3 separate regions of the Homo sapiens genome follow, and all the other regions are reported to be linked to region 1. The links are microRNA targets in miRTarBase. Many come from high-throughput screens and were not tested one by one. Region 1 holds a microRNA gene; each other region holds the end of a gene's coding sequence.

What was found. Region 1 holds the annotated microRNA hsa-miR-3691-5p (AGUGGAUGAUGGAGACUCGGUAC, at 1,761-1,783, opposite strand). A microRNA usually pairs through its seed, bases 2 to 8, with sites in the 3' UTR of a target mRNA and lowers its output. Matches are read on the target gene's strand: a 7mer-m8 pairs with bases 2 to 8, a 7mer-A1 pairs with bases 2 to 7 and ends in A, and an 8mer does both.
Region 2: the mRNA of MRPL10 is a reported target of hsa-miR-3691-5p. Seed matches in the 3' UTR shown: 7mer-m8 at 1,901-1,907.
Region 3: miRTarBase lists ST18 as a target of hsa-miR-3691-5p. Seed matches in the 3' UTR shown: 8mer at 1,717-1,724.

The regions. Positions count from the first base shown.
Region 1 is chr6:5,146,526-5,149,879 of GRCh38, forward strand. MIR3691 (microRNA 3691) reads right to left here and starts at 1,797; the gene lies at 1,708-1,797. The region is part of intron 2 of LYRM4 (LYR motif containing 4); the gene reads right to left. All of the region lies in intron 3 of LYRM4-AS1 (LYRM4 antisense RNA 1), which reads left to right.
Region 2 is chr17:47,821,656-47,824,655 of GRCh38, forward strand. It overlaps MRPL10 (mitochondrial ribosomal protein L10), which reads right to left. Exons shown (of 5, transcript NM_145255.4): 5 at 1,617-2,803. The coding sequence ends at 2,550. It overlaps OSBPL7 (oxysterol binding protein like 7), which reads right to left and starts at 139. Exons shown (of 23, transcript NM_145798.3): 1 at 11-139. RefSeq lists a silencer at 102-317 and an enhancer at 428-597.
Region 3 is chr8:52,110,221-52,113,574 of GRCh38, forward strand. It overlaps ST18 (ST18 C2H2C-type zinc finger transcription factor), which reads right to left. Exons shown (of 26, transcript NM_001352837.2): 26 at 618-3,118. The coding sequence ends at 2,978. Among named protein-coding and RNA genes, the nearest start is that of ST18-AS3, 82 kb to the right of the region's middle.

The DNA.
Region 1 (3,354 bases):
CCACTCAGTGGCCCACTCCACAGCTACCCTCCTTCCTTCTCAACACAGCCCCAATTTCCCCCTGAAGCGGGCCTCTTCCCAGCACAGCCCCCAGGCATCAATCTTGCTTGACGTTAGGCAGTTGTGGTGGGGCCCAGCTACCTGTCCAGTGAACAGCTTAGGAATAATTGCATACCACAACTCTGGCCAAAGTGGCTAGAGGAGGGGGTTCCTGGGCCTTCTGCAAAAGGGTTCTTTCCTCTCAAAAGAAGACAAGACTCAGGGGCTTTTCTATTTTTACTGTTGGACACTGCTAAGCTGGAGCCAGGAGGCCGGTCTGTGGGCAGACACACTGTTACATGAAATAATTCCAATACATTCTCACATCAGGGATTTAGAGGGAAAGTGAGAGACCATCAAAGATGGCCATTTTAGGTCAATTTACAGAAAAGCAGAAGAGCATGTGAGAGCTCAGCACTGAGATGGATGGAATGATTTCCCCATCATCTATCCCCCAGAGGCAGGGGCTTTTCCTAGTTGGCAGTCAAACCCCAGTGGCCTGCTGGAAGCCATTGGTACCAGGCCATTGGTATTACTTGAGTAGAACTGGGATTTATGTTTTCATGATGATCCTAATTGGGTCACAGGTAAGCTTTGCTGTGATGTTTGTGTTTGAGTCCACAAAAAAATTTTACAGTAATTTAAACCTGTATTTATGTTTGATACGAGCTCATTTTGTTACCTTAACAAAACAAGGGTGTGCTGGGATTTTGTTTTCTTTAAGCAGTTTAATGACTCCAGGAAGTAAACGTGTGTAGTTATGGTCTAGCTAAAGTCACTGATGTCATATTTTAACCTGGATTTTGGGTTAAATAATGGATAACGTACCTAATTAGGCTACCAGTAAACAATCACTGCAGGATTTCACCTAAAATGCCAGTGACCAGAAGTAGATGGTGTCCTCTTTCTCTGAAAACTGGGGATCAATGTGAGGTTACAGTTGAAACTATGGGTTATCAATGTCCACAGAATATACTGGCCCTAGGTAAGTAGAAAAAGTCCTTGAATTTGCTTAACCAAACTTTACATATGCTCATGTGACTACCTGTTTTATACATGGATTCCTTTTCATCTTTGAAGGAAGACAGGAAACAGGGATACTAAAATTCACATTCAGAAAATATTTCCATGTAGAGACGTCCATCTCCCCTCGGTTCTCTCCCTACTGCCTAAACATGCTTTGTTAGCAGGCCAAGTCAGACGTGGTCCACGGCAGGGTGAATTAGGCCCTTCTGTCTCATCGCTCCTTCCTTTTTAATATTCCCGAGGAAGTAACAGTATGGTACTTATTAAGCCAAATTTTCCTGGAAGCTCCAGGTCTCATTGATAGCCACGCTGATGAGAGATTACTGTCCGACTTTCCTTTTGTAAATTAGTGGGCAACTGGTTCTCTCCACATGGAGCGGGAAAACAATCTCTGTCTTCTTTCAGTTCCAGAACACACCAAGCTCGTTAGCACTCCCCAGGCCACCTGCCCTCCCCCACTCTCCCTTCACGTCACCTTACTCATCACCAGGTCCCAGATGAAAGAGCTCTTGCTCACAGAAGACATCCGTGACTGGTGTCCCGGCCACCCTCCCAGCCCGCCCTTTTGAACAGCACGTCTTACAGCTGGTTGTGTTTTACTCACCCGCATGCTCGTTTGTTGAACATTGGCTCCCAGACCGTTTGAGGCACTGAGGAGAGGATGACGCAGACTTGGTCCCCACCCTCAGCAGTGGGTACCGAGTCTCCATCATCCACTACCCAGTGCCTCAATATTCACTGAAACGTAAAAGCAGGAAGGAGAAGCAAAGACCTTTATGAGCCTCAAGGCTATGTGACACCCACAGATCAGCAGGGTATGCAGGACTTCCCGTGCTGTGTGGGGAGAGTTAGAATTCTGAATCGTAATCCTGAGCTGGGCTGAGGGGGCAGAGTTAGAACTCTGTATCGTAATCCTGAGCTGGGCTGGGTATACGCCTTGAACAAGTCATGGTGCCTTCTAAATAGTCTCAAGTGCAAAACATGGATGAGAAAATGAGAAAAGTTATAGAAAGTATTTTTTAATGAAAGAATTCATATTAGGTGACAGGTAATGACCTTTACACACACACACCTCTCTCTCTCTCTCTCTCTCTGCTTATAGTGACTGAGAAATCAGCTCTCCCATAACTTTACCAACAATAATTCTTGAAGATGAGAGCCTCTTGTCTGAAATCATTTTCCATTTATAGTTATATGAAAGATATAATGGAATAACTGCTAATTAAATCTATAAATATACATATAAAAATTACCTTGTCATTTGTAGCGCGCTTCCAAGTATAAAATTAAACGTGGTTCTGAATTTTTCCCCTAGAACTCTAAGTTTTCATTTCTTAATCGTCTAGAATAGCTCCTTTAATAAAATTTCATTTTTGACATGATGCTTGCTTGATATTTTAAAACTGTACTTTAAACCTGAAATTTCACATTAATTATTATATTTTTAGGATTGGAAAATGACACCATCTTTCAGATAAATGATTGGATGAGTAATATTTAGCCAATTTCGCTTTCTGTTGCAGGTACAGTTCTGAGTGTTCATTAATATTCAATGAAATTTCCATCAGTATGTATGATATTTTCAGGTTTTCAAAAATAAGTGAAATAGGCACTAATGTGGTGATAACACTAAAATGAGGGCCTGAAAGAAGCCCCGACACGTGGGAAAAGCCTGCTAACAAAGACGCACTGCAACAGAAAGACCTCACAGGAGAGGCCCTTCAACCCAGGATCGGTATTTTATGGCATCAGCTCATTAATTCCTCCAGGTCCCCAGGACACAGATATCAAGGATGGTGTCAGGCTCATTATCTCAGACACTGAAACTGAGGCTAGGGAGATTTTCAGTGGTTAACCAAGGTCAGATAGCATGTCGTAAAGCTGGGATTCAAACCTCTTTACATGTCTGCTTTCAAAGTCGTAGCTCAAACCACTGATCCTTATTGCTTCTCCAGAGAGATATTCTCCAAAATACTCTAGAATTAGGGGAAGCATTAATCTGAAAATCTTGGTATGTCTTCTGGGGGTGGGGGTGGGAAGAGGAACCCTGAAGTCCCTGACTACTGTGGAGATGAGGATATCAGAGGGCTTCTTATAAAGTTCTCATTGGAATAATAAAACTATGAGGTAATAGAAAATCTGGACCAAATTATATATACATTATTTAGATACGTAAACATCAGATACACAATTCCACTTAAAAGCATGCCTGTCCACACATGGACACACATATGCACAACAGGCAGGTGCAAGCCATTCCCAGAACATGTCGTCTTACTAGTTCATCAT
Region 2 (3,000 bases), not on the chromosome of region 1:
GCCCCCTTACCCCAGGGTCCATGGACGCCAGTACTCCTTGGCCCTTGCGCCGCTCTGCCTCTGAGTCACCGTCTCCGAGTCACCGGCTCCCTCCTCACCGCGCTGAGCAGTGGCAGCAGCTGCTGCAGGAACCAGGAAGGAAGGAGATGTCAGAGCCTCCCCTCTAGCCGGATCTCCCCACCTCCCTCTCCCCTGTCCCCTCCTCCCGCCAAGCTCCGGGCAGCCGCTCAGCTCTGCCCCCCTGCTCCCCGGAGGACTCAGGGCTGAGCAGACTGCCCTAGCATCGATGTGGCTTGGGAGTGGGGGCACAGTCCCTGCTGGGCATGGTTCCAGATAGATCAGAGGACTGGGGAACTGTTGGCTGTACGCCAGTGGTGATAAAGGATTTATTCAGACTAGCATGGCAGTGACCCTGTTAGTACCCAAGGCCAATTCCTAATTAACCCCCGCCCCCCGCCTCTCATTTTACATCTGAAAATAGACTGCAAAATTTGGAGCCAGCAAAAGTATCAGGTTGATGGTGGAGGGACAGATGCCCCCTCTGGGACCATAAGAGAGTGCCAAGAGCACAGTCAGCAGGGGCAGTCAAGCCAGGAAAGGGACAGCCAGCAGTCCCCACACTGAGGCCCTTCACTGGGGTGATGCCCCACTAGGTCAGGCCCCATGGAGATCTGAAAGTGCTTGTGTGTATGAAGACACCCCACAGCCTGCAGTCTCTGATCAGGAGCAGGCCTGGGGCAGTCACAGCTGCCGTTAAAAGGGCTGCAATGCTGGTCCCCTCCCTTCCCTTTACCCTTCTGCTGGAGTACTGTGCCCAGCTGCTCAATTCTAATGAAAAATCGGCTCTTAACAAAGATCTAAAATTCATTCAAATGAATGTGGCATAGACCTACAGTTTCAAGCGCAGCTAAGTTTTCTGGAAAGAAGTAGGTGGGGCCTCAGGTGAAGGATGTGATTCAAGTTTCTTCTCTGACCCCAAAAGTGACATGGGCCACTTATCCCTTCCACTTCATCCTCACCGAGCTTGGTTTACGTTTCAGGGTCTCACATATCTCTCGGGAACACCCACTGTCTTGCCTTTATTCAGAGCCTCAGTGCTGCTCCAGCCACCCCAGGAGGAGGGTGTTGTTAGCACCTGGCAGGGTTCTGGGAGGGACAGGAGCACTGGGCAGCACTGACCAGACAAGCTCTGGCATCCAGGAGCCTCAAGGGCCTTTTAAGCCACTTCCCAGTGATTGAACATCCCTGGGCATACAGCACAGGATGAGGCACTGGGGGAAGCTGGTCCTGGCCCAGGCCACAAAAGAGCTGCTGCAGGTCATCCCTGCCAGACAGTGCCTGTCCAAGACTAAGGAAGCGGTGGCATTGCTTCAAGTCCGAGAAGGAATGTTGAACAGCCACCTTCCCCGGGTCACCCCTGCATCCACCCAGAATGTGCTCCAGTCAAGGATGATGGTGGACTCTGAGTTAAGCATCCCGTCTCCTTTATTAGGAATTTCTGGTTCATGAAGACTTGCATGAGGCCTCCTACCCTAGAGCTCTCAGAATTCCCCATTAATAGAGAATCCTAGTTTTCCCGCAGGCCTTTTGTCCAGAACCACCAGAGACACGTTAGCTAGTGGGTACAGCTGTCAGCTGCCTTTAATAGGGCAAGCATGCGCGGGATGCCATTTGTGGGAACAGGTATAGGGGAAGAGGATTTTCCTAGGAAGGGAAGCAAGAGTGAGGAAAGTCAGATGACAGAGAAGCCCCTGAGAGTAAGTTTAGAGGGAGGACAACCGTGTAAACCACAAAATAAAGGAAGTAGAATATATTTCATTTTATTATAAAGCAGTGCTCCCAAACTTTTCACAGCGTACACCTCGAGGGTGGAGAACTAACATCCAAGCACACCTGGATGGTGGATGGGACCCACTTCTGGGTAACCTGATGAGGAAGCTCTAGTGAAGAAATTCAGGACGCGGTCTTCAGAGCAGAGGGCTTGGTTCAAGTCCCTGTTCTGCCACTTACTAACTGCATGACCTTGAGCAAGCCACTTAATTTCTCTGCTCCTTCTCTGTGAAATGGGTACAATGTGGTCAGCAGTAAAGGAACTAATACATGTACAGCACTCAGCACAAAGCCTGGCACACAGCAGGCTCTCACCAGGTGCCATTCTCAGCACAACTGCTTGGTTGAGCTACTGTGGCAGTGGCAGGTTGTGCCCCAAGGGGGTGGGCTCAGGAGCCCGTGCAGCAAGAGGCAGTGACCAAGGAGGCAGGGGACAATAGCCCTATCTTTTCAGGATCTCTGCCTTGGACCTGGAGAATGGAGAGACTTTGCTCCTATCACGTCCCAAGTTGGGAAAACTAAGGACGAAGCCGGTGACTGACATCTGAAATGGAATCCTCTGCATCTCCAAGTGGCCCTATACCTGACAATATCATTACTAGTGAAAACCAAGTGACAAACACACTCCCCGACCCCAAGTTCTTCCACATGTCCCATTGAGGAGAGCACAGCCAATAACGCAGAGTGTATTTATGCGCAGGGCTGGCTAAACAGGCTGGCTACGAGTCCGGAACAGTGTCAGGATCTGGCTTCCCATTGGCCGACATGACAGAATCCTTCTCGCGTTGCTCTCTGATGTACTGGTCCAACAGGGTGGTCAGCTGGAGGGGCTGGTGCTGGAGCAGGGAGTGGGTCTGGGCTGTGAGGCAGGTGAGGCCTCCTACAAGCTCCCCCTGCACCAGGGGCAGGCTGGGGAGCTTGGAGTAGTTGATAAAGCCCTGCCTGCTGAGGATGGTGTCATCAATGCAGCCACCTGGAAGAACACAGGGTCAGTTAGGCTCCTTGCAGATTGCCTTTCTTCTCTGAAAACAATATTCTGACCCTAGTAACTTGCTCTCCATTGCCCTTCTCAAAATCCTGCCTTCCCCAGGACCTGGGTTCCACTGTGCCCCACACCACACCCACTCTGCTTGGGATCGATCCCTACTTCTTCACTCTTCCCTCAGAAAA
Region 3 (3,354 bases), not on the chromosome of region 1:
GCTTTCCTCTTTGGACCCAGACTTCCCTTCGGTCAATTTGGCTTCATTACATGGGTTAAATAGATTTTTTTTTAACCAGATCAAATGTAAGTGGAAACTTATTCTAGAGATGTATGAATCTGGACAGAAACTGAAAAATTAAATTAGGCTGACTATTTGACATTAGATAGAAAGAACACATAAGCAGAAGAGGTGCTATCAGTAATTTATTATTGTTTTTCTTTAATTCAAGTTTCTTTAATTTTAGCTTATATGAATCTAGAGATATACTCCGTATCCAAAGTAATTTTGGAATCAGGAGGGTGGGCCCTCTATCTTGCCACTTATTAGATCTGAGTGAATTTGCTGCTACTGCTAGCAAAGGTGTTCCTTATGTCAAAGCATTCCCTGTTCTGGAGGTGAATGCCACATCAAAGGCAGTGACAGCTTGTCAACTGGCCAAAAGTCCTGTCCACTTTAAGGCAAGCAAACCGGCTGTCAGAACAGAAATGTCTCCGAATGACTGGCAGGCTCAAGTGCACTCTGGGGACCTCACCAGGGCTCGTTCTGGACAGTGGATTCCATGGGAAGGGGATACTAGTCTCCAGATAACAGCCTGAGAAAGATCACATCAAAACTCGTTATCAATTTTTATTTCCTACCATACACCAAATGTACAGCACTGAACACAATTTTGTTGCTTTGATGTAAGAAATATTAAGTGTTTGGAGAAACAGTATACAAACAAACTACCTCAAATTAAAAAAAATGCATACATCATTGCCTTTTTGTTTACAAAAGACCCAATTTACAGTATTGATCATTAACATAGTTGAAAAGAAAACAAATTCAGTGCACATTACAAAACACATCAAGTACAAAGTAGGCAAATAAATACAAACATACTTCACAAAACATCCTGCTCAAACTATGCAAACACAAATAAATTAACCTGAAGTCATAGCAAATTATAGTAATAAATATGTAGGTTGGTAAGAGATTTCTTTTAAATTAAATAAAATATATAACAAACTTGTTAAAATATTTAGCAAATTAAACGTTTGTCTTTGTAATAAGTGAGCTCATTTGTATGCATCTATGAAGTACTGTATAGCAAAATGTTTGCAAGTACACAACTGTAATAGAAAATTTTGTTTGGTGTCCCATTTATAATAGACAGCACATATGGTAGCTCATTTTTTAAAACTGATTTTTAAATAAACACCGTTTCTACCTAAGAACAGACAGTTCATCTTCACTAAACTAAGGTTCAAGAGTTCAAATGAACTCCAAACCAAAGATAAGCCCCACTTAATGCATAACAATGACCAAAGTTTCATGGGAGTGGAATTACTGTTGAGTATTGTTTTTCATTTGTGCAGGTAACAGTAATAACAGTGGAATACATCAAGCCTGTGAATGCCATCACTTTCCATCTAAATATCCATGAGGTTAATAAAAAATAAACACTTTTGTTTATAGCACAGAAAATTAAGCCCACATGAAGTTCATGTGTACATTTACACAGAGGCACGTCTGCACATGAAATGTGTGTGCACACCAAAAAGGCAGTTTAGCTGGTTGTCTATACCTTTTCCTTAAAAAAAATAAATATAAAAAAACTTTTGAAACAATGCTTAACTACTTTACAATCCCTGAAATAGACATTGCCTTTACTATAGAAACTATGAAACTCTGATCCGTTCAGAAATTCAAGATTGTGGGCTCAATTTGAAGTGTGGATGAGTCTGTGTGTGTGTGTGTGTGTGTGTCTGTGTGTGAGTATGCCTGTGTGTGTGAGTGTGTGTGTATATTTTGTAGCATTTGAAGTTTTGTGGCAAGATTTCTATCAAATTGAATGTTGTCTTGTTTCCTATGGTGGGTGAGACCCAAGGTGCCAGTGTTTGAAGTAATCATTCAGATTGGAGTAGCATTTTTTCATGTGTTACTATATTTTCCATTCCTTTCCAGTCAACCCAGTAAGATAAATGCTATTTCAGGGGATATGGTATCTACAAAATTTTTCATTTGGATGTGTTTGTATTTGCTAAGTACAAATCTACACCAATATTGTCACTTGTATATTGTACCAACATATGGCAGGAAAGCCTGGCTGGTCACACCAAGTCTTATTTTTCATCTTGGGATACGAGTTGCCAACGATCTGATATGACTTGAAAAACAAACAGACAAATCTGCATCACTAAAAAGGCTTATGTTTCTTTAAAACATTTCAAATAAATAATTCATATTAACGAAAACCGTCCAGCCAAGTCGAATACTTTGCTGATTGCTATATTTAATTATTGCTAACAAATTCTGAGCAGGCTGTTTTCCAGCATCCTGTGCTTTTGTGAGTGCGGATTCCCCACTAGTGGGCGCCATTTGTCTTCTTATTCCTTCCGTGCAGCTCACCTTACCGCAAATTCATTTATAAATACAAAAATCAGTGAAAGGTGGGGGAAGAAGTGTGCAATAAAAATCAAACTCAACTATAGTGCAGTCCTTAGACAAGGATTTCCTTCACCCTTTCCTGTTTCCTCATTAAAACCCAGCAAGAAAGATGACTTGAGAATAGCATTTCTATTTAAATCCTATTGGAAAATAAATTAATAAACACACTTGTAAAAATACGGCAGACTTCAAAATGCAGTTAAAAGATAAAAAACTCTTTGATTAGTAATAAATAAATTATAAAAATGTCACATTTATTTTACATATACTTTACAAAAAAAAAAAGAGTACAATGAAGAAATAAAAGAAAAACATATGAAAATAAATAAGATCTAATAATTGACTGCATTGCTTTTAATCCAAGAAGTCTATCATAGTTTTTCTTTCCTTTTTATATCAGCTGGGGAAAATAAAATTAGTGCAATGTTGCAAATTGTAAATGCAGTACGGCAACCTCCACGCCTTAGCAGTACATGAACCTCTAACAGATCCATCTGGAGTTTACTGCTGTTGGTAACTTCTGTTGCCCGGCAGCGCTGTGATCCTACACATGGATACCCTTCACTGCCTGTTTGATACTTTCCAGTAGAGCTTTGCATTCCGGGGAATAGTCCCGTTCCAGATTGCTGTACATATCTGTGAGTGTATTTACATATGCTTCAAAATTCTGCTCACTGATAGGTCCCTAAATGGAGACAAAACACATTGACCCAATCACAGTGGTTCAGGCTGAGGGAAAAGAAGGACCCAGTGACATCGAAGATCAGTGATCCGGGAGTCGGGAGGGAAGGCAAGGGTGCATATGACTGCTGGGGTTGCAGGGGATGGAGAGAGACGGAGTGTGTGTGGGATTCATCTGTTCACTCTTAATTCAGGAGACGAATATGACTGGCTTGTACAGTATTTGGGGTTGATTTGGAG